Regions from separate parts of the Homo sapiens genome. Here region 2 is linked to region 1. A link means that fine-mapping ties the variant in region 1 to the expression of a gene that starts in the linked region. Tissue or cell type: whole blood. Region 1 holds a variant in brackets; the other region holds the start of a gene. All regions are shown on one strand. Distances are from middle to middle.

Region 1 (7,560 bases):
ACTTTTTGAAAAATAGTGAGTTTGCCTCTTTTCCCTCATTGCTGAAATCTGCAGTTAACTCAAAGTATCATTAATCCCGTGCAAATGATCTGTTTGCCCTACTTCTGCATCAGGCTTCTTTTCATCTCCTCTCTGGGACTCTGAAAAGATGGGAGGGTGAGGAAGTCAGCAGAGGCCTGGTTCCTGTGGGAGAGAAGTCTCACAACACCAGAAAATCCACCTCGGCAGGAATACTTTCCATTCTGTCCTTCTATAGTGAACTGTTTTGCTCAGTATCAAGTGCTCTTTTCCTGGTATGAATTTTCACATTACCATAAAATTCACAGCAATTAAGTTAAAGTAAACATGGCTTGCTGTCCATGCTCTAACAAAAGGCCAGAAAAGTCATTCAATTAAACCTGGTGGGGACCTGAAAGTAACTGGTTTGTGACCATCAGCTTGTTTGCCAGCTTTCCCTTCATTAAACACTGAATTATTTAGGTGGAATATCATCTAAAGCCCAAGCCTAGTGCTTGAAAGCTTTTTTTTACAGGGCATTTCCATGGAGAATAAAATCATGGAGTTCTTCTTCAGCCTAAAGATGTGTGGTCATCTTTGCAAATGGGCAAATGGGTTGTCATAAAACATGCAGTAATTGTAAACCCTAAGTGGCTTCTACTTCCTGCTGTTAAGAGCAAATTTGACACAAAGCTTTTGTACCTTTCCTTGCATGGTCTTCGTTACTGGACAAGGATTTAGTAGTTTCTTTACCATGTCAAAACCAGTGTGGCAAAGGGCACATGTCGGAGCCCTTTACTTGGTGTTTTCTGAGTTCCATCGTGCTTAAAGCAGTGCCCTCCCCCTGTCTGTCGGGACCTGCCTCCTCCCACCTCCATCACATCCACTCTCAAAAATCACAAGCATTCCACAGGTCCATTGGACTCTTTAGTCAGGCAATCATGAACTTCCAGTTACCAATGCCTTGCTTTTAAAGACCAAATTGACAGTATATGCTAGAGGTTTTCTTTTCTTTATTTTTCTTTCTTTTCTTTTTTTTTTTTTTTTTAAATCAAGCTGCTATAGATGCTTTCTGGCTGACTGAAAGGAAAGAGAATCTCTGGTAACTGCTGAAACTTGTAGAGGTTTCTCTTAGTAGCCCATTTTAGAAAGCAGTAAGAGTGCTTGCTGCGTTGTCTTCTCTATGCTGTGTCCTGCCGATTGCATGGAATGTTCTTTAGGGTTTTCAACACACAGCTAGAAGCCCACAGCCGCACAGAAAAAAGGAAGTTGTTAGCTTACCTTTATGACAGCTATAACGATTTTGGAGTCCCCAGCCTGCACAGCAACTGAACTGACTGTCGTCGTAGAAAGCGCAACACTAGGACTTCCTTGGCTGGACATGGTACTTTAGAACCAGAGTTTATACTTTGGGCAGCCTCTGGACAGTTGTGTGTCTGCTGGTCATTTCAGAAGGCCAGGGTTACTTGGATTCATTCAGGGAAAGAGCTCAGCTCACACTGATTACTCTGCCAAAAGGAAAGAACAGGAGGTTAAAAATAGACAACCCCATTGAGTTTATCGTGAGAGAGAAAGGAGCGAACGAGAGAGAATTGCCACGCCCCTAGTATGGTGACACTAAGTGCCTGTTATTTTTGCTGTTATCTTAAATGTGGAGGACAGCTTCAAGCTCTTTCCTTATCAGCTGATGTTTGATAACAAATGGAAAAAAAAATTACATCCTGACAACCCAAATTAGTTTTGCCACCGAAACTATGCCATTGTAACCATGGACTTTGAAACAAGTAAGTCTTTGACCTGGTTATCAATCTTTTCAAGATTTTTGAAATCTCTCTGATGCAAAGAGAACTACCAAAGTGTACTTTAAAAAAGTTTTGGTATTTGTCTTGGGGTTAAGTCACAAATTGCTTAAAACACATTTTTAGATTAATCTGCTTTTCTAAAACTTACTGTTCTTTGCTAAATGAAGTTTAGATGGAATAGCCACATTTTCTCAGAGCCTCAGATTTCTTAGGAATTTTTAAAAAATATTTCAACCAGCATTTATAAATAGGTGCCTATCATTTCAGATTTTCTTTGTGACTATTCTGCTCCATTGGACAAGGTTTTCAAGTTCAGTTATTAATACCATGAGAAAGCAAAATACTTTGCTGTTACCTTTTAATTGCAGCAAGAAAATGTTTTCTGTGTGGTTAAAAGTTATTAAGACATATATTTTGCTGCAATTAAAAACAAAAACAAAAAGGAAAGTACTGTGCTTCAGGCTTTTTATTCCCTACCCCCACCTCCTGTTCAGGAAAATTATAGCCAGCTTCAAATCAGTGCCCCACATTGGTAGATTAATCCTATTGCTAGAAACTCAGCCTGTGTCACAAGTTGTCTGTGGTATTAAACAGCAGCTGTTGGATTCCCTGTCAAAGAACAGCTGAAAATAACACTAAAGTTTAGGTCAGAAGTCAGATGCAAACATATCAGAGTTACTAACTCCAAAGCTGCTGGAAGCATTGGAAATCTCTGGGACAAAGCCACAACAGAGAATATAGCAAAAAACAGTTTTAATGAATCCACTTGCTCTGTAAACCTTTTAGCCCAATTTAATAGTAGGTTCAGGTTCAGGGCCAATGTTTAGAAGACTGAGTCAGCTCCATTGCTTTGTTTTGCTAAGGTTCATGATCATATTCTTGATTCAAAGGGGAAAAGTACTTTTACACATACTTCAGTGTTCAATTATTTTTGTTTCCAAGAGCATGTCATGGCTGCTCTGCAGCTGTGTAGCCACCACCCATGTCCTCTGCGCTCAGCATCTGCCTGCTGCCCCAGTGAGATGGAAACCATACCTAGATCCTAGTCCCTATGCAACACGAACTTCACCTGACCCCATGAAGGGAACAATTGGAGCGAGCTCAGGAAAGCAGATGCCGAGCAAGCTATGATGTAGCAACTATTGCAAATGGTTTCATTTTATGGCAGGGCTGGAGAGCTTGCAAAGAGGTAACTGACCTGGAAGGTTGCAGGCAGGCTCCTTCTTTCACTTGCATCTGTGTGAAGAGACCACCAAACAGGCTTTGTGTGAGCAATAAAGCTGTTTATTTCACCTGGGTGCAGGTGGGCTGAGTCTGAGAAGAGAGTCAGCGAAAGGAGATAGGGGTGGGGCCGTTTTATGGGATTTGGGTAAGTAAAGGAAAAAGGGGGGTTGTTCTCTGGCAGGCAGGAGTGGGGGGGTCACAAGGTGCTCAGTAGGGGAGCTTTTGAGCCAGGATGAGCCAGGAGAAGGAATTTCACAAGATAATGCCATCAGTTAAGGCAGGAACAGGCTATTTTCATTTCTTTTGTGGTGGAATGTCATCAGTTAAGGCAGGAACTGGCCATCTGGATGTGTACACAGGTCACAGGGGATATGATGGCTTAGCTTGGGCTCAGAGGCCTGACATTCCTTTCTTATATTAATAAGAAAAATAAAACGAAATAGTGGTAAAGTGTTGGGACGGTGAAAATTTTGGGGGATGGTATGGAGAGATGATGGGGGATGTTTCTCAGGGCTGCTTCGAGCGGGATTAGGGGCGTCATGAGAACTTAGAGTGGGAGGGATTAAGCTGAAGGAAGACTTTGTGGTAAGGGGTGACATTATGGGACTGTTAGAAGAAACATTTGTCATTTAGAATTATTGGTGATGGCCTGGATACAGTTTTATATGAATTGAGAAACTAAATGGAATAAGAGAGGGAGAAAAACAGGTATTAAAGGTCTAAGAATTGGGAGGACCTAGGACATCTGATTAGAGAGTGCCTAAGGAGATTCAGCATAGTCCTGCCGGCAAAGATTATTTATTTACTTCAAGAGTTAAGAGTGGCAGTTTGGGGATAGCACCAGGAGATATCAGCTGTGATGGCTTGGAGAAACAATGTAAACCAGCAGTGTAAACAAGAGCAGAGCATGTATAAGTAGTTGAGAATGGTGAATAGGAGTATGACTAGACAGAAGATAGTAGGGATGACAAGATTTTGGGGGCAAAATCTAAGTTGGTCTGGTGTCTGGAATGAGACTGGGGCTAAATAAAAAGGAGCGTCCACACAGGAGCTCAAATGGGCTGTACCTTGTAGCATTCCGAGGACAGGCCTGAATTCTGAGAAAAGAAAGAGGTAAAAGTATTGTCCAGTCCTTTTTAAGTTGGTGGCTGAGCTTAGTGAAGTGTGTTTTTAAAAGACCATTAGTCCGTTCTACTTTTCCTGAAGACTGAGGACTGTAAGGGATATAAAAGTTTCACTGAATACCAAGAGCCTGAAAAACTGCTTGGCTGATTTGACT[A/G]ATAAAGGCCAGTCTACTATCGGACTGCGTAGAGGTGGGAAGGCCAAACCGAGTAATTGTGTCTGACAGAAGGGAAGAAATGACCGTGGTGGCCTTCTTAGACCCTGTGGGAAAGGTATCTTCCTATCAAGTGAAAGTGTCTACATAGACCAAGAGGTATTTTAGTTTCCTGACTTGGGGCATGTTAAGTAAAGCTAATTTGCTAGTCCTGGGTGGGGGCAAATCTCTGAGCTTGATGTTTAGGGAAGGGAAGGGGCCTGAATAATCCGAGAAGTAGTAGAATAGCAGATGGAACACTGAGATGTTATTTCCTTGAGGATAGATTTCCACGATGGAAAGGAAATGAGAGGTTCTAAGAGGCGGACTAGTGGCTTGTAATATAGGATAGCCTGCCTTTGCTGGTGTGTGGTGATTAGGCCTGGTGGAACTGCCATCAATAAACCAAGTGCGATCAGGGTGAGAAACAGGGAAGAAGGAAATGAGGGGAAATGGGGTGAACATCAGGTGGATCAGAGAGATTCAGTCATGAAGGTCAGGTGTGGTATCAGGAATAATGTGGGAGGCTGGATTGAAGTCCGGGCCATGAACAATGGTAATTGTGGGAGACTCAACAAAGAGTGAGTACAACTGAAGGAGCCGGGGAGCAGAAAGTATATGCATCAGGTGTGAGGAAGAAAATAGATTTTGGAAATTATGAGAGCTGTAGAGAGTGAGTTGAGAATAGTTTGTGATTATAAGGACCTCTAAAAGTATTAGGGTGGCAGCAGCTGCTGCACGGAGACATGATGGCCATCCTAAAACAGTAAGGTCAAGTTGTTTGGACAAAAAGCCTACAGGATGCGATCCCAGTCCTTGTGTAAGAATTCCAACTGCACAGCCCTGCACTTCTGCTGTGTGTAATGAAAAGGGTTGGGATGAGTCAGCAAGAGCTAGGGTGGGGGCAGTCTCTAAAGCTGTCTTCAAGGAATGGAAAGAGGAGTGGAGAAAGGATTTAGGATCTATGGGGTCAGCTAGGTTTCCTTTTGTGAGTTTATATAACGGTTTTGTTAGGATGGCAAAACCAGGTATCCAAAGGTGAAAGTATCCAACTATGCCTAGGAAGGAAAGGAGTTGTTTTGTAGAAGGGATTGGGGTTTGGGAGATTAGCCGGACACTACCAGCAGGGAGAGCACATGTGTTTTTATGAGAATTATGCTGAGATAGGTAACAGATGAGGAAGAAATTTGGGCTTGACTGAAGTAATGGGATCTGTCTGTGCAGCTTTGCGGCAGTACAGCCCAGGTAATTTGCTGAGCTTGATGGGTGTCAGGGTCAGTCCAGGTGAAAGCAAAGAGAGGCTGGGATGAAGGGTGCAAAGGAAGAGTAAAGAAAGCATGTTTGAGATCCAGAACAGAATAATGGATTGTGGAGGGAGCTATTGAGGATAGGAGAGTATATGGGTTTGGCACCGTGGGGTGGATAGGCAAAACAATTTGGTTGATAAGGCATAGATCCCGAACTAACTTGTAAGGATCATCTGGTTTTAGGACAGGTAAAATGGAATTGTAAGGAGAGTTTATAGGTTTTAAAAGGCCATGCTGTAGCAGGCGAGTGATAACAGGCTTTAATCCTTTCAAAGCATGGTGTGGGATGGGATATTGGCATTGAGCGGGTAAGGGTGATTAGGTTTTAATGAGATGGTAAGTGGTGCATGATCGGTCACCAAGGAGGGAGTAAAGGTATCTTATACTTGTGGGTTAAGGTGGGGGGATACAAGAAGAGGACCCAAAGGAGGCTTTGGATTGGGAAGAAGGGTGGCAATGAGATGTAGCTGTAGTCCAGGAATAGTCAGGGAAGCAGATAATTTAGTTAAAGTGTCTCGGCCTAATAAGGGAACTGGGCTGGTGGGGATAACTAAAAAGGAGTGCTTAAAAGAGTATTGTCTAAGTTGGCACCAGAGTTGGGGAGTTTCAAGAGGTTTAGGAAGCCTGGCTGTCAATACCTACCAGTTATGGAGGCAAGGGAAACAGGCCCTTGAAAAGAAGGTAATGTGGAGTGGGTAGCCTCCGTATTAAGAAGGGGATGGACTTACCCTCCACTGTGAGAGTTACATAAAGCCTGGCGTCCGTGATGTTCTACGGGGCTTCCGAGGAGATCGGACAGCATCAGTCTTCAGCCGCTAAGCTGAGAAGATCTGGGAAGGAGTCAGTCAGAGAGCCTTGGGCCAGAGTTCCAGGGGCTCTGGGAGTGACTGCCAGGTGAGTTGAACAGTCCGATTTCCAGTGGGGTCCTTCACAGATGGGACACGGCTTAGGAGGAATCCTGGGCTGCGGGCATTCCTTGGCCTGGTGGCCAGATTTCTGGCACTTGTAGCAAGCTCCTGGGGGAGGCGGTTCTGGAGGAACCCCTGGCCACTGTGGTTTTGATGTTTGGAAGTTCTTGTGTGCTGGAGATGTGGCTGGGGTTTGTCTCGCAGTGGAGACAAGGAATTGCAATTCAGAAATGTTGCTACTTGGCTGCCTCTATTATTGTACACCTTGAAGGCGAGGTTAATTAAGTCCTGTTGTGGGGTTTGAGGGCTGGAATTTAGTTTTTGGAGTTTTATTTAATGTCGGGAGCAGATTGGGTAATAAAATGTATATTGAGAATAAGACGGCCTTTTGACCTTTTAGGGTCTAGGGCTGTAAAGCGTCTCAGGGTTGCTGCCAAACGAGCCATGAACTGGGCTGGATTTTTATATTTGATGAAAAAGAGCCTAAACGCTATCTGATTTGAGATAAAGAGAAAGGAGCATTAACCTTGACTATGCCTTTAGCTCCAGCCACCTTTTTAAGAGTAAATTGCTGGGCAGGTGGGGGAGGGCTAGTCACGGAATGAAACTGTAAGCCGGACCAGGTGTGAGGAGGGGAGATGATAAAAGATTTATAGGGTGGAGGAGCGGAGGCTGAGGAAGAATTAGGACCTAGCTCGGCCTGGCGAGGAGGGGAGAGGTCAGATGGGTCTGTAGAAAAGGAAGATTAGAAAGACTCAGCGACGCTTGGGGTTGGGACTGAGGAGACTGGTGGGAGGGAAAGAAGGAAGATTTGGGGTGAGTTGCATTGGGAACAGAGACTAGGGGGAGGGACCGATGTGTAAAAGAATGCCTGGGCGTTAGGCACCTCAGACCATTTGCCTATTTTACGACAAGAATTATTTAGATCTTGTAGGATGGAAAAATTGAAAGTGCTGTTTTCTGGCTATTTGGAACTACTGTCGAGTTTGTATTGGGGTCAAGCGGCA
Region 2 (7,560 bases), 250 kb before region 1:
TCTAGAGAAAGTCTATTTTGTTGTTTATACATTAGCCCATCTCCCACTATGGCCAATTAAATAGTTTATTGGACTGATTTATGGGTATTGGATATTTTCAGTAGTGTCTTTGTAATAATTTATTTGCATATAGTTTGAAGGAACAAGAAGATATGAAGTAGCCAGATTCCACTACTTCTCAAGGAGGCAAATTCCCACTGAAGTCATATGTGTTCTGCTCAGTTCAGAAGTTACTGAGTGTTACCAGATAAATAGGTAAATTATTTGGAAGTCGGTAAGACTTATTTTCTATTGTACATATATAGACCAATGAAAAGGGAATTTCATTGGTCTATATATGTACAATAGAAAATAAGCAATGATTATATGATATTTGTACAATGTAAAAGAAAGTATTATCCAGTTATGAATAAGATTGGTGCATATAATAGAAAAAAAGAGAAAAAAAGAAATTTTATTTTATATCTTTATTATAAGCCATAAAATTTTAAAAAAGAAGTGGGCAATGAACCATGGAAGTGCACTAAATTAAGAATTAAGCATGATTTTTTTTAATCCGTATCCATCTTACATGGCTCGTTACAATACTACAGAAAGAGAAAATATTGATTAATTTTAAAATTATTTACAATATAGTTCATACACTACTCTCCATTTTTTCATAAGATGATACCATGCATTTTTTTGAACCATCCATAAACTGAGTTATGAGGAAGAAAAAGAAGGCAAAAAAGAGATGAACTTCCTTTCAGATAAAATTCTAGGGTTAGTGTTTGCTTCCTTTTAAATAGAGACACCCGAGAAGCATATTATTTTCTGTCATTTCAAAACGATTGGAAAGTCTTTTAATTCATTAGAATCACTCAATAAAGATTGAAAATAAAATAATAAAATAATGAGGAGTTGGTTAATTACTGAACAGCTCTGCCTCTGAGGAAAATTAGATGCACTGTTATTTTGCGTGTGAACCAACTGAAGTTCAGGTGTCCAGAGCAGGCAGCCCAGACTGCCTACCCCATGGCTCTGTGGCTGGCTTCTATTGGGCTTGAGTTCTTGGCTTCCAGTCTGGCTCTGCAGCTGAGCCCAAATATAGAATGACTAAATTTGGTCCTATTTAGTTGCTGGATTCTAACGGCAATTTTAATCCAACACTAATTATTTTTGCTTTGTGGAATAATAAATATGAATAAAACATTTCAAGCCATTATATTGTCAGATTTTGTCAGTACTCTGTGAATGGTATACCCTTAAAATGACCTTTCCATAGTGTTGGACTAATTTTCCGAAGTGAAAGCAGGGCTTAAACTTGGCGTCAAGTCCTGCAGCAACGTTAACTTACTGGAGAGGAGGCAAAGGAAAAAAAAACAAAAGTGTGAATGTGTGAGCTTACCACTAATGTGAGCCTCAAAGGTTGCGGTACTACCCTCCAGTACCACAACGCTTTGTAACGGCTGCGTAAACGTCGGTGCTTGAGTTGTCATCTTTCTAGGCACTCTGAAAAAGAAGAGAAAATAAATTAGGGTGTCCCAGCTAAGGGTCACTCTGGAGCTGCTTTGCAGATAGCAGAGACACACGTTTCTCCAAATGGATTGCTCCATAGGTCATCTGTGGGCCTAGAGTGATGGGCAGGTCTTCTCTTTTGTGGCTTGAACAGTTTTGCATAGTTCATCATTGAGTTGACTTAAAGCCTAACCCAAAGTAGCAAGTGTAAGGGGAAATGGAAAAAAGTATTAGCCAAACAGAACAAGGAATGAACCCTAGTGGTCAAAGAGGGAATATACAGTCTTACCAATGGTGGAAAACCAGGTTCAGAGTTGAAGAAGAAAACCACAGCAATGCAGGGTTAGTGAAGTGTAATTAGAGAGACAAGACATGTGATAAATGTAAAATAAACCTCTGGGCCTGGCGTGGTGGCTCATGCTGGTAATCCCAGCACTTTAGGAGGCCGAGGCGGGAGGATTACTTGAGGTCAGGAGTTTGAGACCAGTTTGGCTAACATGGTGAAACCCCTGTCTCTACTACAAATACAAAAATTAGCCAGGCGTGGTGGCCCATGTCTGTAGTCCCAGCTACTTGGGAGGCTGAGGCATGAGAATTGCTTAAACCCAGGAGGTGGAGGTTGCAGTGAGCAAAGATGGTGCCACCACACTCCAGCCTGGGTGACAGAATGAGACTCTGTCTCAAAAAAAAAAAAAAAAAAAAATTAAAATAAATAAACCTCTGCATCAGCTTAGTAAGTGAAAATTATTTTAAAAATTTTCCTTCTCCCCAATATTTTTCGTTCACTCTATATTTATAAAGTTGACATTGATTCAGACATTATCTGATTACTTAAAATAGTTGCCAGAAGTAAAAATCTGAACTTTGTAATCTCTTTCCTGACTGGAGAAGCTTTGGCAAGCCTTATCAAATATGCAAGCTTTTTGTAGACGGCATACGGTGCTTTCTATTTCTTAACATTTCTTCATACTGTAACTGTGCAGTAAATGTTGTTACTGCTGAAGTAAATATTCAGAAAAATTTAAATTTTAGTGAACAGGCCAAAGTTTATTATAGTTCTGAAAGAAAAATGCTGGCTTGAGTTCTTAATATGGAACAATTTGCAAACTTTGAATAATGGAAGGCTGGTGTAAAATGTAGATGAAGTGAAAAGGCCTATGCTTTCATAAAGTAAAATATTCAACATCAAAGAAACGAATATAAAATTTGCAGTTAAGTCATTTTGTTAAGTGCAAGAAAGTACTTTGCCTATCAGTTTCAGAGACATTATGTGAAGAATTTTCTGATGCATAAATACCTAATTATTCAACATGACTATTCTGTTCTGAAATAGAACATTTCTGAATTGTCAATCACTTCATTACTATTTTTCATTAAATTCTTTGTTTACTAAAACTTCATGGAGCAATAATCTTCTTAGTGATAATTCTGTTCCTTACTGTAACCTTCTACTTAGTTAAAAAAATGAAACCAGCATTCTCTGAGACAATAAAATTTATATTTGGAAAAATCAGATAATATCCAAAAGCTTTCATAAATTTTTTTTGTCAGAAACTCCTTTTTGTAGCATATTATCTTTGGGATGAACAACTTTCTGTGTCTAACTTTGTCTGTTTATAAGTTAGTATATCTAAAAATAGCTGTCCTCTTAGACATAGAATACCTAATTATATATCTATGTATTTACAGGCATTGACAATTAGTAATCAAATTCTAGGAAGATGAGAAATCAAAGTGTATTTAGAAGTAAGAAACCTTTCCTTTAAACATTATTTCTTACCCTTCTTAGTGTCAACATTTATCTCAAAATATATAATTGGACTGTGTGCTGAGTTAAAATGCATGAAGAGATTCTGAATATTTTAGAAAACAATTATATCATTTTATTCCAAATCTCCAACTATGTTGCAATTAACCAGCTTAAATTGATCTTACATTCCTATTGTCTAGGTAAATTTTATTGCCTTAGCACTTGCTCTTCACAGGCCTTTGTCTAACTGGGGCTGAAGGTATGCGTCTAAAATGTCATGCTCTTAAAATAAACTCTCCTAAACTCTCCAAGGTTGACTGACAGCAGGCAAGTGTTCTGTCACTGTCCTGCAACTGATACCTCAGCAGTTGATTCCCTTAAAAAGTCATCAGGGTGTAGCTGATACCACATGCATTTTATCAGAGCTATTCTTGGTGTGCTTAACTTTATCATTGAGTAATATAACCTTGAACATTCTCAACAGGCAAAGAGAGTCTAGAAAAGAAGTAAACATTTCTCTCAACATTTCAGACCTCAACTTTTAGAATATTAAGTGAACTTAAACAATTTGAATCATGGAATCATTTAGCTGATATAATAAAGCTTTCAACTTTTTAAGGAAAAATGTTCAGACATTTTAAAATAGAATTTAACAAGCAGATTTAAATAATGGGTCAGCACTGGCAAGAAATAGTCATACAAACACTTGTACATAGGCATTTAGCACACACAAATAATCCAGAGCCAGAGATCAATAAGAAAGTGACTCTACTATTAAAATAAGAAAAGTTGCTGCTCACCTGATTTCTCAAGAGTGCCTAAAAAGGGTGGGACTAAGCCCAAGGTTGCTTCTGAAACGACGTCCTATGGAGAGTTGGTTTTTCTGACCATCTCCGACATGAATCGGTGAGCCTCTAATCCTAAAAACAAAACTACACAGTCAAGACTGTGTAGTTTTGCTTTTCTATGCAATCCCTACACCCGAGGCGAGGCTGGGAATGCACGACTGCTCAAGAGCCAGGGTCTGGCCTGCCCTTATATTCACCAGATCTGCTGACAGCCCCACATCCTTAGGCAGGGCCCTGGGTGATTGGCTGTCTTAGGAAAGCATGATGGGAGAGGACCTATTTGGTAGTGTCACATACCACCTGTTCTTCTGATTGACAGTGCTAAATTTAGTACCTCAAAGGAGACTTCACCAAGGAAATAGAACTGTATTTAAAGAATAACTGTGTTGAGGCTCAGAGAAGAGCATTGGTTGCTGATGTTAAAATCCGAAAATGCAGGTTTAAAGAGGTGTGACAGTAGATAGCACTTGTGGGCAGTCATACAAAAGAGCCCCAAACCTGAGGACTGTGCCCTGAGTCAGGCCCCAGTCCTGTTCCCTTCCCCCATAAAACAAACCAAATGGACCTGTCAATCATGACAGCAGATGAGGAAATTTATCTCAAGCATAAGGCTTCATGTTCTCTGAAGAATCAGTTGCTATAAACCTTAACGTTGAAGAGAGCTCATTTGTACTACCTACATTCTCCAGAATCCACTTGTATTTCGGGGACAGTTACACTGATGTTAATGAGCTTATTGCTTATACAACCCTGCAAGATATAATGTTGAAAGGCAAAATTGGAACTCTGCTTAGGTTAGTCTGTACAGTACAATGATTTCACCTTTGTCAGATTTCATTTTTGTCTGGCATTAATATTTACAAATATGTGTGTACTGCTCCTTAGTAAGTAGCCAGGTCTTATGCTTAAATCATCCATAAGGTTCCTTTTCCAGACACATGAATGCTGTTCTGCTAATCTCTGGAGTTTGCTGTTACTAATGGGAAGTGGATAGGAGGTGATATAGTTGCTATTTTAGGACTGAATTTAATTTCAAGCAAGAGATATTTCAAATAAAAAAGAGCACACCAAAAGATCTTTATAATGACTCAGCTGAGAGATTTGTGAAACTCTACTTAGAGGGAGGAAAATTGTCTTGTTGATAATGGAAAGAGACTTTTATCAATAAAAGAGACTAAAATTTTTAATTTAAGTTAAATTTCTTTATGTCTGTAATAAAAATATTCCCTGTTATGGAAGAATTTGGCCATGCATTAAACTTTTCAATTTCTTGAGTATTTCATATCTTGTATTTATTTATATAGTGATTAATATGTTAATGTTTAACAGTTTAAATTTACTGACAACTAATGTAGTATAGTTATGTTAACAAGATGACGCCATGTACTTATTTAAACATTTTTCTCCTTTACTTAAGTGGTGGTATCTGTATTGGTGGCACCATTTCCACCCCCATAGATGGCATCTGCTATAATTCTATTTGATTGCTTTATTCAGAAACAACTGGTTTCATATTATATACTTTGAAAATTATTCCCACTGAGAGATTTGTGTTACAAAGAATCTGCCAGTCATAAGGCAAAGAAACACTAGAAATGTATGATCTTTCTGTTTTGGAGTGTTCACCAATTGGCTATCTATTTAAGATACGTTTGTGCATATTTGTGTGTGGGTATGTAGTGTGCGTGTGTGTATTTTTAGACTCATTTGACCTAATGTGAAGCACATTAATGTTACGTTATGTTTGTTGGAACTAAAGTCAAATCATTTTAATTCTTACGGGAACTAGAGGGAAGAAGTGACTATAATCTGGAAGCCTGCGTCATCTTGACATGATGCAATTCAGGTAACTCAAGAGCCAAGAAGATGGACCATATGTTATAAACATAAAGTCAAGTGTCTGTCCTCTTAAGCTGATTGTCTAGTCACTGTTCTTAGACTTTTCTAGACCCTGCCTGCCAGCCTACATCTTTCTCCCGAGCTGGATGCTTCCTGCCCTCGAACATCGGACTCCAAGTTCTTCAGTTTTGGGGCTTGGACTGTCTCTCCTTGCTCCTCAGCTTGCAGACAGCATATTGTGGGACCTTGTGATTGTGTGAATTAATACTTAACAAACTTCCCTTTATATAAATATATATATGTATGTATATATTCTTCCCTATATACATATTAGTTCTGTCCCTCTAGAGAACCCTAATACACCTTGCAATATTGTCAAGATCCTTGCCTTTAGGCCTTTATATGTTTATGTGACATTCAGAATTAAGAAAAGAAAAAAATGAATGAACAAAAGAAAAAAGAAGAAAGAAAAGGAAAGAAGGGACCAGTTAGTAAATAACTAATATGCTGCTCTGAAAAAGAGTTCTTATTATTGGAATAGTAATGGACAGTATATGATATCATGGTATGCATTAGTTTTAAAATTAAATATGCCATCGTTAGAATTAGTAAACTAGTCTTGTGGAAACCAAATACTAGGCAGATTTGGGGAGTTTGCTGATGGAGTAAGATCTCAATTTACCACCCTAACAGTGGGGAGGAGCCACACAGATAATCCCAAACAGCTGATAATTCAAATGTAATGCCTACTTAATTTGGAATGCATGGCATGATTCTCTCTTTAAGCACAATATTCAATGAAATTCAATAAATATTTATTAAACATATAGTCAGTGCTGAGCACTGGGATAAATTATTACGATTTTGGATTCTGTCATTATTTATTGATTTGACAAATATCTACTGAGTGGTGACTTTGTGCTGGGCATTGTGCTAGTGATGGCTAGGCAGAGCTGACCAAGAAAAGACAGTTAGAATTATTGTGCTCTTAGAGATCATGGTCTACATCAACTCTTAGTGAATGCTCATTAATCTGTGACTGAGACCAAGTCTAGGATATATGTAAAACTCAGGCAGTAACTCCAACTACATAGTCAGACTTTGTTTACCTTATATAGGACCATTTACAAAGGAAGGACTTACTGGGAGTTATTCGAGAAATGGGTACAGTTTTGAAGGCCAATGCAAGGATACTAGAAGAGAGTAAAACTAATGTATCTTATGACTGATTAAATTTTTTTGTGTGTTCTTTTATTGTATTAAACACAGTTTAGGCACAGAGATCATAGCAATGCACACAACACACAAAAATACCTGCCCTCTAAGAGTTTACATTTTTGTTAACACAGTAATATTAAGTGATATAATATCTGTAATTTCCTTTCCACTCATAAAATATATCAAAGCTGAAATATAGGCTCATCATGGAGCTATTTTTAAACAAGGAAATAGAAAAGCAAATTCAAGAAGTGCACAGGGAAAAGCGTGCTGACAAAAACAATTTATTCTAATGGAAGACAGTCGTGTTCTTTGAGTTATAGAGGCGGAAAAAGCTACACTGGGAATGTGGGAGGCAAGAAATTGTTGCTTACAATTTAAAAGACTTATTGTCCCATTTTTTTC

Evidence for each region. PIP is the estimated chance that this variant, and not a neighbour inherited with it, causes the effect.
Region 2: TTN starts here. The variant in region 1 is fine-mapped to the expression of TTN in whole blood (TOPMed, PIP above 0.99). The same link has a PIP of 0.9 or more in blood mononuclear cells.

Annotation. Positions count from the first base shown.
Region 1 is chr2:179,048,562-179,056,121 of GRCh38, forward strand. CCDC141 (coiled-coil domain containing 141) reads right to left here and starts at 1,576. Exons shown (of 24, transcript NM_173648.4): 1 at 1,279-1,576. The coding sequence starts at 1,380. RefSeq lists enhancers at 1,073-1,122, 1,313-1,562, 1,573-1,652. The variant A/G (reference allele first, on the strand shown) is at 4,303.
Region 2 is chr2:178,803,162-178,810,721 of GRCh38, forward strand. TTN (titin) reads right to left here and starts at 4,262. Exons shown (of 363, transcript NM_001267550.2): 1 at 4,051-4,262; 2 at 1,391-1,494. The coding sequence starts at 1,481.